Linked DNA regions of Homo sapiens: region 2 is linked to region 1. Evidence: fine-mapped expression QTL. Tissue or cell type: blood mononuclear cells. Region 1 holds a variant in brackets; the other region holds the start of a gene. All regions are shown on one strand. Distances are between the middles of the regions.

What was found. PIP is the estimated chance that this variant, and not a neighbour inherited with it, causes the effect.
Region 2: it holds the start of ZNF251, and the variant in region 1 is fine-mapped to the expression of ZNF251 in blood mononuclear cells (TOPMed, PIP 0.97).

Annotation. Positions count from the first base shown.
Region 1 is chr8:144,846,625-144,854,727 of GRCh38, forward strand. It overlaps COMMD5 (COMM domain containing 5), which reads right to left and starts at 6,424. Exons shown (of 2, transcript NM_014066.4): 1 at 6,215-6,424; 2 at 3,552-4,771. The coding sequence starts at 4,714. The coding sequence ends at 4,040. It also overlaps a transcript of ZNF7 not described here. RefSeq lists silencers at 4,281-4,432, 6,465-6,654 and enhancers at 5,639-6,487, 6,065-6,394, 6,945-7,044. The variant C/T (reference allele first, on the strand shown) is at 3,278.
Region 2 is chr8:144,750,610-144,758,712 of GRCh38, forward strand. ZNF251 (zinc finger protein 251) reads right to left here and starts at 4,922. Exons shown (of 5, transcript NM_138367.2): 1 at 4,796-4,922; 2 at 4,087-4,194; 3 at 3,583-3,712; 4 at 3,074-3,187. The coding sequence starts at 4,119. LOC107986986 (a long non-coding RNA gene) reads left to right here. Exons shown (of 3, transcript XR_001746149.3): 3 at 6,697-8,103.

The DNA of each region.
Region 1 (8,103 bases):
TGGGTCAGTTCAATAGAAGTAAACCTAAAGTCCAACAATCCAGGTTAGATATTAGCCACGGAGGGATGGGAGGAGGAGTCTTCTTTTTTTTTGAGACGGAATCTCGCTCTGTCCCTCAGGCTGAAGTGCAGTGGTGCGGTCTCGGCTCACTGCAAGCTCCGCCACCTGGGTTCACGCCATTCTCCTGCCTCAGCCTCCCGAGTAGCTGGGACTACAGGTGCCTGCTACCACGCCCGGCTAATTTTTTTGTATTTTTAATAGAGACGGGGTTTCACTGTGTTAGCCAGCTGGTCTCGATCTTCTGACCTCGTGATCCGCCCGCCTCGGCCTCCCTAAGTGCTGGGATGACAGGCGTGAGCCACCATGCCGAGCTGAGGAGGAGTCCTCTTCTAGCTGCACGATGTGGAAATGACACATCATGTCCATGGGGCAGCTTGCTGAGAGCCAAGGGTGTGAGCACATGACTTAAATTCAAGCTACTGCACAGCTTTGAGATCTGAGTATCACATGGAAGCATCCAGGTGGCCCCTGGCACACAGGCTGGTGGTTCTTTTGTGGAGAGGGAGAGGAAGAGGGGCTGCTCATGGGGTAGTGCAGGTGCTAGAATATCCTGTTAACCTGTTCACACTGCACTGCAATTCGGGCTTCGGTAAGCTCATCTAAAGAGTTTCCAGGCCAGGCACGGTGGCTCACGCCTGTAATTCCAGCACTTTGAGAGGCCAAGGAAGGATCACGTGACCCCAGGAGTTCGGAGACCACAGTGAGCTGTGATCGCACCACTGCACTCTAGCCTGGGTGACAGAGTGAGGCCCTGTCTCCACAATATATAAATAAAAACATTTTGGGTTTCTGTTTTGGAGACAATAAATTAAATCTATAACCTAGGCCTGGAATTGCTTTTTATCTCAACTATCAGAATAATCTTTCATTTATGACACTGAATTGAAACTATCTGGACCTTTCTGGAAGCTTCACAAAGTGAAGCAGAGCAAGGGCCGGGTCCAGGCCATTTTATAAATCCTCAAGTCCCCAGTGCATGCAGCTTGACTCAGAGCCCCAGAAATGTTTGCTGAATGAGTGAGTGATGCAGGTGGGGAGGCATCCAGGCTTTGAGCTCAGGACAGTGCCACAGGAGAGGGAAATCACCAGCAAGTTTCCACAGAGAACTAAGGCCAAGAAAACCAAGGGAGTAATTTCCCAGATGCAGACATCCGTTCTCTGTGCAAGGCCTTGTGCAAGCCACGGGGACAAAGATGGACAGGGCTGGCCTCTGCCCTGGAGTCCAGGTCTAATGGAGACTGGCCACTGACAAGGATGGACAGGTGCTCTGTACTGGAGGGGTCCAGTGGGCTCATGGGGTTGGCGCCAACCATGCCTGGACTAAGAATGGTTTTTCAATGGAAAAAAATACTTTGTGACACATGAAATTAAAATTTCATGGCTGGGTGTGGTGGCTCATTGCTGTAAAACCAGCACTTTGGGAGGCCGAGGTGGGCAGATCACCAGAGCCCAGGAATTCAAGACCAGCCTGGGCAACGTGGCAAAACCCCATCTCTACAAAAAATCTGAAAATTAGCCGGGTGTGGTGTGGTGTGCCTGTGAGCCCAGGAGGTTGAGGCTACAGTGAGCCATGATCGTGCCATTGCATTCCAGACTGGATGATGGGGAGACCTTGTCTCAAAAAAAAAGGAAAATTTCAATATCCATTAAAAAAATATCATTGGAGGCCAGGCTCGGTGGCTCATGCCTGTAATCCCAGCTGCCTGGGAGGCTGAGACATGAGAATTGCTTGAACCTGGGAGGCAGAGGTTGCAATGAGTCGAGATCGTGCCACTGCACACCAGCCTGGGCAACAGGAGTGAAACTCCCGTCTCAAAAAAAAAAAAAGATGGTATTGGAACACAGCCATATACATTTGTTTACGTATTGTGTGACTGCTTTCAAGCCACCATGGCAGGGTGGACAGAAACTTCATGGCCCACAAAATCTAAAATGTTTACTCTCTGGCCCTTTGTGGGAAGAGTTTGCTCACTGCTGAGTCAGAGGAAGTGGCCTCTAAGTCTGCTCCACGCTGTAGGGATCTCAAGTCCAACTGGATCATGTCTGCCCTGATTAAAACCCCACTGCTCCCCCTTGCCCCAGTGGAATGACCAAAATCCTGTGTGTGGCCTTGAGGCCAGCCGCTGTCCCTGCACTTGATCCCCCATCCCTCAATCCCCTATACTCGGGCAGTGCCAGCCCCAGTCCCAGGAATGGCCCACTCCCCTGCCTGTGTCTCATAAGCTGTCTTTTCATGGCTGTGTCTTGATTTGCCTGGGTCCCCGCTTGAGACAAGCCCAAGGGTTCACAGATGAATTGAGGCAAACACAGATTCCCAATGAGAGACGGCGAGAGGTCAGCCTGAGGACCGAGGGCAGGTCCATGCTCTGGGCTCCACACAGGCTTTGCTAAGCAGCTGGGAGAAGCAGAAGGATGGGGCTGTCCCTAAAGCTGCTGTTCCTGCAGGGCCAGGGCCAGTGAGTGAGAAAGGCAACATGGTCCCAGCTGCCCCAGCCCCATCCACATCTGGGGACAGAGAATGCAGGAAGTGGCTGGTCATATTCCTGATCCGATGACAGTGGGGGGACAGTGCCTTCGGGGAGAGAGAAGGGCTTTACCTGGAACTCAGTGAGGGTGGGACAAAGCTGAGTGATCGACCAGATGGCAGGACCCACAAGCATGCACCTTAGAGGGCACCTGGGCTCCTCCCAGAGTCTACTGACCCCACCCCCAGGTACTCCTCTGTACCCTGACATGTCAGAACTGCCCATGGAGGGATGAGGAAGAAATCCAGGCTAGTGGAGGAGACAACCCAAAAACTGCAGACAAGACAAACAGCCAAGCAACCCCAGGCACTCAAAGACAAGGGGAGGTTTCTCAGCAGAGAACAGACTAGACATGGTCCAGAAGTGCTCCACGGAGGCAGGAACAGTCAGCTGGAAGCCAGCTGACCGAAAATGGCTCTGCAGAGACCGAGCACCAAGGCCCCTCCTGGAACACAGTTATGCTGGAAGCTGCAAAGCTGGCTACAACCCCTGCACACACCTGCCCTAGAGGCACCCGGGAGAGGTCCCTGCCACCAACTCCACCCTGGTGACAGCCTCTCTGCTGGGCTCTAGCCTCCTCCCTTGCACCCCTCCACACAGCAGCCAATCACCAGATCACGTCTCTCCTCTGCTGAAAACCCTCAGAAGGGCTCCTCTGTCACTCAGAATTGAGCCAAAGTCCTTAAAAGGCT[C/T]TCAGGCCTTGACCTCTGTACCCTCCCCAACGTCGCCTCCCCACAATGATCTCCACCTGCTTGGCTGCAGCCAGGCGGGCCTTAAGCACGTCAGGCCTCCCCACACTGGCCGCCTGAGCCCCGTCCTCCCCACCTTGTGCTGCTCCCCTCAGAGCGCTGTGCCCCCGGCTCCTTCAAGTCCTCGCTCAGATGTCACACCCTCAAGGAAGGTCGCCCCATCAGCACGCAGACCCCACCCTACTTGCTGCATCACACGCCATCCTCTGATGAGCTATTCCAGTTAATTTTTATGATTTATTTTACAATGTTTCCCCTCCCCTCAGCCGCACTAGAATGTCAGCTCCATGGGGTCAGGGATTTAAGGCAGAAGAGTGAAAATGCCCAACCTAAAACACAAGATCTACAAAAGCACCTGGCTACATGGGGCCAGGCTGAGCAACTGTATGTTGTCTACAAAGGGCCTCAACCTGGCCTCACATGGCCACGTCCAGCACCAAAGACAAATGTACAGGGAAGGGGAGGGTGTGAGGTCCAACACTCACCTATAGAAACATGTTTTTAGCTGCTTTACTTCCAAAAAGAAAAAAAGGCATAGCTCTCTTTTTCAATTAAACAGAAAACTACATAATTACGTTCAAACACTCACTGAAGAGCCTGCCTCATGGGAAGGGCAGGGCTGTCGTGGGAAGAGTCAGCTGCACTTTGGCACCATCTCAGGTGCCTGTCCAAGCCGGATCTGAATGGGACTGGTCAAGTGAGGGGTCAGTCCTGCAGTCTGCGCTCACACCTCTTCTCCAGATCTGCCATCTCCTTTAGGACCAGGGCCACGCTGTACCGCAGCTCCTGGAACTTGGCTGTGGGGACCTCAAAGCGGTATGCTGACCCATCTGAAAGCTTCAGCTGCATCAGGACGCTCGGCTGCAGGGAGCGAGCCAGGGCACTGGTGGAGATTGCTACATCCACCCGCCACCGAAAGTCAGCAACATGCGGCAGCCAGGCCCCCTGCTGCTGGGCCACAGAATCAAGGAGGGGCCGCTGGCTCCCAAATACCACGCTGGCCAAGTCCCCGACCAGGTCTTGGGGGATGCAGAGCTCCTGGAGCTGGTCCCTGAAGGTGTCAGGCTTCAGGCTGGTGGGGGGCAGACGGAGGGCCTGCTGGAGCAGTGTGTGCATGCCTGCCAGCAGGGCACCCAGCTGCTCCTCCGGCAGGTTGGCGCTGACCCCAAGACGCTGCACAGCCTCTCGGCAGTCCTCCCCCTGCAGGCTGCTGACCACAAACTTCAGCAACTTTCTGAACGTGCTCCTGTCTAGGTCCCCTAGTAGCCGGGCCATTGCTGCCACCTCTGGAGGAAGCTGGGCCCCCAAGAAACTCACTCGGCCACTGTGACTATCACCAGGATGATGCAGGTATGGAGTTGCAGCCCCCACAGCAGACATTGCTGCTGCTTCCTCTTTGATCAGCCAGCCCAGGAGGTCGGTCCCAGATGCAGATGCCTAGAGTGGGGTGGAGGAGAGAAGACCAGTGACTCTCACATCCTTTGGGCCAGCGAGTGAGGGTTGATATGGTCCCCATCATCAGCATGCTGACAGTGTGAACTACCAATGACAGTCAGTGCTGCGGAGATGGCCCTGGAAGCAGGTGGCAGAGGGGTCCATGTCAGTCCCAGGAGGAGCGGAGGCCTCCCAGAGGAAGTGACATCTAAGGCATGAAGGACAAGCAGGAATTGGCAGAGAAGTAGGGGGCAGGGAGGAGGACCAGGAAACAGCACAAGTTCTCCAAGTAAATTAATAGATGAAAGAATGAACTAGGGGAACGGTCCGGGGAACACAGGGACACTGCAGCTGGCGCCACAGACCACACTGAGACCATTTAACTATTCAATCTTGAATCCTTCACAACAGTGGGCAAGAAGAATTACCATTCTCACCTGACAGAGAGGGAGATAAGGCTCTAGGCCAGGTGCAGTGGCTCAAGCCTGAAATCTCAGCACTTTGTGAAGGTGAGGCCAGCGGATCGCTTGAGCCCAGGAGTTGGAGACCAACCTGGGCATCATAGCAAGACCCCGTTTCTACAAAAAATTTAAAAAACTAGCCAGGCGTGGTGGTGCACGTCTGTAGTCCCAGCTACTCAGAAGGCTGAGAGGACAGAGGATCCCTTGAGCCCAGGAAGTCGTGGCTGCAGTGAGACGAAATCGAGCCGCTGCACTCCAGCCTGGACAACAGAGATGCTGTGAGGAAGGAAGGAAGGAACGAACGAATGGAGGGAGGGGGGAGGGAGGGGAGGCAGGGAAGAAGAAAAGAAAAGTAAAAAGAAATCAAAGCTCTAAACACAGCTGCCAAAGTCAAGGACTGAAGCCTAGACCTGTCTATTCAGAAGTCCCAGCTGTTTCCACCACAGCCCCAACCCCCGGGCTGGAAGAGCTGAGCAACGGCTGGCAACAGAGGCAAGTGCGGCAACTAAAGAGGGTTCCGACGCACCTGAAGGAGCAGTGCAGCAGCACAAGCACCTGCTATGCCAGAGGAAACGCACGTGCCCACCTCAGCACACCAGGTACTGGAGCAGAGCTCAGCGGGGCACAGCTCCTGTCCTCGAGGCACTTGTCAGGCCACTCTGCACAGCGCTGGGGGAGCCCAGGAGCTCCCCACGGGCTTCACGGCGCCCCATTCTCCCTGGGAGTCAACGACCACCCACTGCCAACTCCTTCACCGTCCCGCCAGCACCAGGAGCTCCTTCCCACTCCAAAGAGCCATCCGGGAAGGCCTCCGAGCTGCCCGCTTCCGGTCGCGCGGCTTGGAAGGCCGGGTTCGCACCCTGACTCCGTACCCGCGGCTCTGATGGGGGCGCGGCGTCGCCCGTTCCGGGGCGCGGGGACCTTGGTGCACAGAGTCAAATTGGCACTCGGCCGTCGCCGCCCCCACGGTTCGGGGCCAACCTACCGGCGGGCGCTCCTCCGCGGAAAAGCCCCGCAGTATCCAGAGCTCTCCGAACACAGCGGCGAAGCAGCCTTTCCTAGGCCCACACCCCCAGCTCGGGAGGGAGACTCCATCCTACTCCACCCCACGCTCCCGCTGTCCGAGTCGCCCCCAGCACCTGGCGCCGGCAATCCCCGGCTGATGCAGCCAAAAGCGGGCCTGGTCCCCGGAAGCGCCCTGAGAGCCACTTCCGGGCCGCTCTAGGAAGGCAGCAATGACCGCCCCACTGTGGTCCGCTGGCCCGAGGGGCGGAGCCGAGGCCGCGCCAGGTCCCGCCCCCTCCCCGCCCGGGGGAATCGGGGGTCGCCGGCGGGGTCCCAGACCTCGTCTTAGACAGTTTTTTTTTTTTCTTTCCCCAAAGAAAAAGAAGGCGGTGTTGTGTTTCCGTTTCTGAGGTAGAAACTGCGGCCTGCGCCCGCGTCTCCCTCCCCGCCCGCGCAGAGTGAGGGTAAAGCGGGAGAACGCGTCCCGTGGTCTGGGGTCAGAATTCCAGTCACCTGAGGCTGAGGAGCTCGCTGGCTTTCGTCGGCGTCCGGGTGGGCGGCGGGGAAACCGCGAGACCTTGAGGATCAGCGCGGAGCGGAGCCGAGCGGGCGTCCCTGTCCCGTGTGGACGGTCTGCGCCTCCAGGGTTTTGAGAGCTGCCCCGTTTCCCCTCCTGTCGGGTGGCGTCCGGCGCGCGTGACTCGGTTCCGCTTTGGGCTGCTCTGTTGGGCCCTAGCGCAGGAGCTCGGTCCGAAACAATGGCCGAGCCATTTTATTTAACATGTACTTTACCATAGTTAAAAAATAATATGCCAAAATCATTGAATTGTACAAAATGGGTGAATTATATGGTATGTGAATTATAGCCCAATAAAACTTAAAAAAAAAAAAAAAACTCTGAAAAGGGAAACAACCTAATTAAATGGGCAGAAGATGTGAGTAGACATCAAGGAAGATACAAAGTGGGTAATGGGTACATGAAGCCTTCGGCATTGTTGGCTATTAGAGAAATGCGAATGGAAGCCACGGGGAGGTGCCATTTCATACCATTAGAAGGGTTATAATAAAAATGACAGGTTGGGTGCGGTGGCTCACGCCTGTAATCCCAGCACTTTGGGAGGCGGAGGTGGACAACCAGATCTCAGGAGAACTCTATCATGAGACCATAACTTAAGGGCATGGTACTAAACCATTCATGAAAAGCCACCCCCACGATCCAATCACTTCCCACCAGTCTCCACCTCCAGCATTGGGTATTACCTTTCAGCATGAGGTTTGGGCGGGGACACAGATGCAAACCACATCAGCCATACAATGGAATAGTGTTCAATAATAAATAGGAGTGGAGACTGGGTGCAGTGGCTCATGCCTACAATCCCAGTACTTTATGAGGACTAGGTGGGAGGACCACTTGAGGCTAGGAGTTCAAGACCAGCCTGGGCGACATATCAAGGCTTCATTTTTACAAAATTAAAAAAAAAAACAGGTGTGGTGGTGTGCACCTATAGCAGGGGTCCCCAACCCTCAGGCTGTGGACCGCTACAGGTCAGTGGCCTGTTAGGAACTGACCTCACAGCAGGAGGTGAGGGCAACCTATAGTCCCAGCTATTTGAGAGGCAGAGTGAGGACCACTTCAGTTCAGGAATTTGAGACCAGCCTGGGGAACATGGCAAGACTCCATTTCTAAGACAAAACAAATCAAGTCTAAAAACCATGCTGAGGGAGGATTGTTTAAAGGGAATGGATCTGGGAAGTTTAGAAAGAGACTGCATCTGTAAGGTGTTATTTCTCTTTAAAATATCTGAAGCAAAAAGGTGAAGTGCTATCACTTGTGAGGTCTGGGCGGTGGTTACGTGGCAGACCCACCCC
Region 2 (8,103 bases), 96 kb before region 1:
CTCTGATATTCACTGTCAGTACCTAATAGAGCTCCTGGAGGTAAAGCTCACAAAAGTATGGGGTCCTCCCATGACCGGGTCCCCCTGGAGTTTTTTTTCAGAGTTGTCCACACTGAGCCTCTAGCAATTTGCCAGTTACATTTTAGGCTTACCCATCTGGCCACCGGTTCCCTGGGAGATTATTGCTCACAAGATGTGGTTGTGATTCTTTGTATCTGCCTGTTTATCTCTCCAGAGTTTTTTTTTTTTCTTTTTTTTTTTTTAGAGTCTCGCTCTGTCACTCAGGCTGGAGTGCAGTAGTGCAATCTTGGCTCACTGCAACCTTTACCTCCTGAGTTTCAGCGATTCTCCTGCCTCAGCCTCCCGAGTAGCTGGGATTACAGGAACCCACCACCACGCCCAGCTAATTTTGTGTTTTTAATAGAGACAGGGTTTCACCATGTTGGCCAGGCTGGTCTTGAACTCCTGGCCTCAACTGATCCACCTGCCTCGGCCTCCCAAAGTGCTGGGATTACAGGTGTGAGCCACCGCACCCGGCCATACCTCTCCAATTTTGAGAGCAGTGATTTGTCCTCTGACCTCACACCTCTCTGATGGAGCTAAGATTTGTTGATTTTTCAGTTTGTTCAGCTTTTTACTTGTTAGGACACAGTGATGACTTCTAAAGTCCTTACATGTCAGAAACAGCTAAAATACTATTTATTTGGCCTTTTTCCTTTTCCTTTTTTATAAACTATATAACTGTTTAAAACTGAAATTATCACATTGTCTTTCTGAGTTTAAAATGTTATGTAGATGTATTACACATAACAACTATAACAAAAAGGATGGGAGGGATGGTTACAAGATTTCTGGATTTATGTGAAGTAGTACACAAATGAACTGTAAGTAAACTGTGGAAACTTATGTATACTGTAAACCTTAGGAAAATCACTGTAAAAAATAATGCAAAAAGATTATGTAAAAAGCAAATAATAAAATTTAAATGGAGTTATAAAAAGTATTCAAATAACCCAAATAAAGGCCGGAAAGAGGAATTTAAAAAACAGAAGAGGTAAATGTAAGTAAAAAATAAAATATTATGCACAAGTGCATTCCTGAACCATATAAACAATTACATTAAACATTAACAGACTAAACACTACAATTAAAAGACAAAGATTGTTAGGATGAAGAAACAAGACCCAATTGTATGATATCTGCAAGAGATTCACTTTAAGTGTAAAGACAGGTTGAAATTAAATGGATGAAAGAAGATATACTATGCTAACAGTAAGTATAAGAAGGATGGAATTGCTACATTAATATTAGATAAAATATATTTCAAAACAAAATGTATTACCAGAGACAAACAGGAATTCTCTTATCTCTCATAATGATAGTCATAAGTGAAGTAAGTCTTATAATACAGCTTCAAGATACATGAAGCCAACACTACAAAAATTAAAGTGAAGAAAAGACAATTCCACAATCATACTTCTGTATTTTAACACCCCTCTCTCAGCAACTGAAAGAATAACTAGACCAAAAAAAAAAAAAAAAAAAAAATCAGCAAGGATACAGAAGACCTGAACAATACCATCAACCACCTTGACTTAACTGATATTTATCTAACCCCCAAATGGCAGAATACACATTCTTTTTCAGTGCACGTGGTATTTGTACTGGGAGAGACCACATTTGGGGTCATAAAACAAGAAGCAACAAATATGAAAGGAATGAAATAATACAGAGTATGTTCTCTGACCACAGTGGAATTAAATGACAATAACAATAAGATAACTAGGAAAACACCAACTATCTGGAAATTAATGCATGTCCAAATAATCATTGGGTCAAAGAAGAAGTCACAAGAAAAACTAGATAACATTTTGAACTAAATGTTAATGAAAATACAACATATTAAAATTTTGTGAGATGCAACTTAAGCTGCACTTTGAGAAAACGATATAATTTTACAATCTTAGCTCTTACATGTAGAAACCAAATGCTTTATTCAACCAATTTTGAATGTGCACAAATATGGGGTATATTTTTCACGAGCCTTTCTGAATAAACTAGAAGACAAGCTCCAGCCAACCAAGAGATGGGGAAATTTTTGGTAAAAGGACCAGAGATAAACAATTATTAATAACATACTTAACTGGAGATATAAGCCAGTAACAAAGCTGCGGATATGAGTTGTAAAGTGTTATATGTTCTGACAGTGTAGAAACAATATAACCAACAAAAACTGGGAAAGGAATGAGGAGGAAAAGGGAGAAAAGTAGAACAAGCTTGTTGACTGTCTCAGTAGCTGGCAGTCAAAGATAATACTTACAGCTGACATATCAAGTAGTAGATGTATATTCAATAGAACAAAGGTAAACATTAAAAAAAGCCACTGGTCAGGTGCAGTGGCTCATGCTTGTAATCTCAGCACTTTGGGAGGTCGACATGGATCACTTGATCTCAAGAATTTAAGACCAGTTTGGGCAACGTGGTGAAACCTTGTCTCAACAAAAATAAAAAAAAAACTAGCCAGGTATGGTGACATGTGCCTGTAGTCCTAGCTACTTGGAAAGCTGAGGTGGGAGGATTGCCTGAGCCTGGTACGTGGAGGTTGCAGTGAGCCGAGATCGTGCCACTGCACTCCAGCCTGGTGACAGAGTGAGATTCTGTCTCGAAAAAAAAAAAAAAAAAAAAAAAAAGACTACTACTGACTAAACTTGGCAAATGAAGGAGAGAATGGAGTGAAGAATAAAAAGGACATGGTAGGGTACCGATATCTATTGTCAAAAGGAAATAAGTGTATTATAAAGAAGGGAATGAAGTTGTTATCAAGGTAAATCACCAAAACAAAAATATGATCAGAAGTAGTATATATATATTTTTAAAGCAAAGAAACAGACCAGCAAGATAAAACTTCTAAAGCATGTGCACATGCTCACATTTGTAGAGGGGCTGTATCTGTGAGACTGCCCCTGGGGGAGGCCATTAATATGAACGCCATGCCCCAGCTGTCCCTCGCTTGGAGCCTCTTAAGGCAGGATTGGGAGGCTGCTCCCAGGATTAGCATCCCATCCATTCTCACCTTTCTGGCAGCTTTTCAAGATATCTGGTTCCTCAGCTCCCAGAAGATTCAGGACCCAAAGTTCCTTCCCCTGCTCCAGCTGGGAGATCAACTCCGGCTTAGGGACAGGGAATCCTGTTGAGGATGAGGACACTGGTGAGCTGGCATGGCCCACTGGGCCTTCCAGGCCAGGTGTGGAGAGATGGGCCCTGTGTGCACGTGTGTACGCCTGCACGTGTGTTGGTCAGGGGGCCCGTGGGCTGAGACTAAGTACTGAAGGAGAATCCACTCATCAGCTCTCCTGCCACTGGAGGGACACCAGTGGGGCCACTGGCAACAGGGAGTGAAGTCCCTAGAACTGGGGAGCAAGGCAGGCTTTTCCCATGGGAAATGTTCCTTCTGTAGAGATCAGACTGATACCCGGGGACAAGGGGCAGGACCCTCTTCTTTGGGATCCAAAGAGCCAAAGCAGCCTCCCAAGCTCCTCAGAGGCCCCCACTGCGAACCAGGCCAAGTGCAGAGAGCCTCACCCAGAGAGGCCACGTTCCCATAGTTCTCCAGCATCACATCCCGGTAGAGCGCCCGCTGCTGGGGGCCCAGCTGCCGCCCCTCCGCCTGAGAGAAGTACACGGCCACATCCTGGAAGGTCAGCGGCATCTCCTGCAACAAAACATCGCCGCTGCCCAGGCCATGCCCACGGGGCAGCAGCCTGCACTAAAAGGGCCCTGACCTGGTGGGGCCCCACTACCCAGGGCCCTGCTGTGGTCAGTATGAACTGTGTATCAGCAGGTCCCTGATGGGGCAGCTGAGAGCGCTGAGGACCAGCCAACTTCAGCTACACGGGGACCCAGCTGAGCTCAGAGCCCCTCTCCCTGCAGGAGGGCGAGTCTACCTCTCAGAACCCTTTCCTCACGGTTGCTATGAGCCCCTGGCTGGCCTTACCAGTTGCCGGGCTCACGGCTCCAGAGGAGAGTAGCTTCTGACTGGGATGGGGATGAAGATGAAGAGGTGGGCAGGAAGGAGGGTTAACTCACCTGGTGCCCTGGAAGCTGGAATGTGGCTGCCATTCTGTGTGCATGGGCTGCTGTGGTTTCCAAGAGAAGACAGGAGACTGCCCTGGCCTGAAGTCTCCCCGAACTTACCTTCAGTGGGGAGAACTCAGGCTCAGCCCCATTCAACCAGGGGTGTGGAAGGATGGCCAGGAGGCAGAAGCTGATTGCTGCTGTGGCCTCCTGGGTCGCGGGAGGCAGGTCACTATGCAGCACGGGCCGACGTGCCCTACTGCTCAGTGACTCCTGAAATCCCAGAACGGCCAGAGCCAGAGCCCGGGGGGATCCAGGGACGCCCGGCTAAGGGGTGAAAGCTGGCAGTTCCCGTGGTCCAGACCTGCTGAAGGCCCTGGAAATGGGGTGCAGGGCCGTTCTACCTGCCTGGCCAACCTGGGGCAAAGAGCCACGTGAGGGTGCAGCCTCACCAAGGCTGAGGACGTGAGAAGGAGGCCGCGGGGATGCTGCCGAAGGCCCCAGGCTCCGGGGAGAGGCCGGAAGCCAGCTGTGGTCCTCAGTCCAGCCTTCTAGGGCCGCGCCGCGGTCGCCTCCTCCCGGCCTCTGCAGCCCGTCGGTGGCTCCCGCGGCACCCAGAACAGGCTCCTCCTGGACTGGCCGCCGCCTCCCCGCGCCCTCCCCGCGCCCTCCCCGCCTGCCTGCCCGCTTGGCGCTCCTTCCTGGTCCGACACTGCCCCACCTGTTTGCTCGACCCGGGGAAGCCACCGAGGAAGCGCCGAGGAGCTGCGCAGTCGCACCGAGCCCGGAACGGACCCTCCCACAGAACCGGGTCCAGAGCCGGGGAGGGGGCGGGCTAGGATGAAGAGGGCGGGCCGGGCCGAGCTGCGCACACGCAGGCTTCCCCGCCCCCTGCGGGGCCTCAGTACGCCTCCGAGAACGCCGGGAACCGGAAGCCAGCCGCGGTTCCGCCCGGATTCTTCCGGGGCCGCTCTGGGATGACTGGAGGCCTGCGCCGTCTATGGTCGGGGAGGGGGAGAGCCCACGGCAGCTGAGCGGAGGGTCTGGCGCGGTGACGCTGCGCATCCGGGCCGCGCCGCGCTCGCCCCGACCCTAAACCCTCACCTGAACCCTAACCCCGCTGGGCTCCCGGCTCCCCCGTCGGTCACCATACATCGTGTGTCCCGATTCACCATAACCACCAGAAAGTCGCTTATGAAGATGTTACAATTATCGGGGCTCAGAACACAACGCCCCAAAATGAAGGCCTGGGAGGCAGTTTCCCTCTGACCTTCCCAGGCCTCCAGTCTCAGTTCTTTTCTCCCGCGAGGCTCCTCACAGAGTGAATCCCTTTTACCCAAGGCGAGTCCCAGAGGCCAGACCCCCAAAGCCAGCCACAAAACCTAAAAACACGACTCTGATGTTCCCCCCGCTTTTCTGTGTGAAAACTGGCGGTAAAGGCCGGGCGTGGTGGCGGGCGTCTGTAGTCCCAGCTACTCCGGAGGCTGAGGCGGGAGAATCGCTTGAACCCGGGAGGCGGAGGTTGCAGTGAGCCGAGATCGCGCCACTGCACTCCAGCCTGGGTGACAGAGCGAGACTCCATCTCAAAAATAAATAATAAATAAATAAATAATCCATTTATTTGCCTTTTCTCCAAAAATCTGCCTTTTATGAGTTGGCTTTCAGTGAACCTTCAGAGGGCAAAGAGGAACTTTCCCTTTGGCCCCTACACAATAAAGCATGGTTGAAAAAATAGCACTTGATAAAGGTGAGGAGACCAGCTTAGGAGCAGGGGGAGAAGGAAAGGAAAGCCAAGCCATCTTGTCACCCAGAATATAGTGTAGGCCCTGTACACTGTGTTAGAATCAAGGCAGAAATTTTATATCTGAACTTGAGACGATCAACGAGGATGGAGAATGTCTAGAAGTCTAAAGCACCATGCAAAGTCACACATGATTAAGAAGATGCCTTACATTATTAATATCAGTGCTGGGGAGATTGTGGAGAATTACGCACTGCTATGCTTGAGGAAGCGTGTTTAGTACAATGTTGAAAATGAATTAAGCTGTACATAAAGAGCCTTAAACACTTCAATTAATCTAGGAATCTATCCTATGGAAATAACAAAAATGACAAAGAGAAGGGTGCCCATTCCAGAGTTTGTTGTGTGTGTGGTTTTTTTTAAATAATGGGGAGAATTTGGAAAATAGCTAGTTATTCATAGAAGGGGAAATGGAAGATAATTATGCTTTTTGCAGCACAGAAATAGATAAATCTATTGTCTTCTGTACACTCAGTTGAACATTATGCAGCCATTATGTGTGGTATTTGAAAAAAAAGTATTGGCAGAGGGTAATGCTTATGAAATAGAATGTGAAAAATAGAATACAAAATTATATTTATGATATGATCTCAATTGTATATATGGGTGTTTAAGTTCACAAACTTAAGGTTTCCAGATATAAGGACCTAGGTTGGTTTGTTCACTGCTCAGCCACCAGCCTGGAACATAGTAAGTACTCTATAAATACTTGGGAAGTGCTTGAAAAACGTATATAAAAAGCTGAAAATAAATACATCATTACTAGTTGTAAGATTGCAGAATATTTGATTTCCTCTTTTTCTTTTTCACATCTCCTACAGGGGGCGTGTAATCACTCTGTGACTGGTGGCTGCAGGCTCTCCTAATGGATATTTCCTATTTACAGGGCTACCAACTGCCAAGCATCCAAGCAGTCCCTAGGCAGCAATCCAGCAGCTGACAGGGTTACCGGCGTCAACTGCCACAGATGCTAGGCTGGTTTGCCATATTTACATGGATTTGATCAGCAATGAGCACAAAAGATAGAGATTGTTTCTTTCTTTCTTTTTTTTGAGGTGGAGTTTTACTCTTGTTGCCCACGCTGGAGCGCAATGGTGAGATCTTGGCTCACTGCAACCTCCACCTCCCAGGTACAAGTGATTCTCCTGTCTCAGCTTCACAAGTAGCTCGGATTACAGGCATGCAGGACCATGTCCAGCTAATTTTTTTGTATTTCGTAGAGACGGGGTTTCACCATATTAGTCAGGCTGGTGGCAAACTCCTGACCTCAAGTGATCCACCTGCGTCGGCCTCCCAAAGTGCTAGGATTACAGGTGTGTGCCACTGTGCCCAGCCTAGATTGTTTATTTCTTACTCAAACAGCTACAGCATGATCAGCAGCCTGTGTCCCTAGACACACAAGATGACAGCAAACCATAGGGGCCAGATGACAGAAAGCACAGATGGTGGCCACGGTGCTGCTGAGGCGCCAGCTCCACACTGCAGCCAGGCAGTGGTGTGTCCGCAGCTGTACCCCAAGGAGGGGCAAAGGGAGCATCCCAGACGCAGCCAACCAGGGGCCCAGGGGCGCTGCTGTCACTGTCGTTTCTTACAAGGTTGCTTGTCTCCCTTAGTTTCAGGAGGAACCTCCAAGCATTCTGCCAAACTCAGTTCACACGGTGATGGACCTTGCCACACAGCTATGTGAAGATGTCCAAGGTCCTCAGGGCCCAGAACAGAGCTGTTCCCTACTCCACTGACCTCCCTGTTTCTAAAACCAGTGGGCTTTTTTTTTCCTTTGAGACAAGGTCTCTCTCTGTTACCCAGGCTGGAGTGCAGTAGCACAATCTCAGCTCACTGCAACCTTCACCTCCCCGGGCTCAAGCAATCCTCCCACCTCAGCCTTATGAGTAGTTGGGATCACAGATGCGTGCCACCACATCGGGCTAATTTTTTGTATTTTTTTGGTAGAGACAGGGTCTTGCTCTGTTGCCCAGGCTGGTCTCAAACTCCTGACCTCAAGTAATCCACCTGCTTTGGCCTCCCAAAGTGCTGGGATTACAGGTGTGAGCCATAGTGCCTGGCCACCAGTGGGCATTTTTTAGTTTTCCTTTACTTGACCTCTCAGCAATATTTGACACCATGAACTGTCTGTCCTTCTTGGAACACTTGATTTCCTTATCATCAATAATACCACCCTTCCTTCATTTTCTGCCAACCACTCTCAATCTCCTTTGCTACTTTCTCCT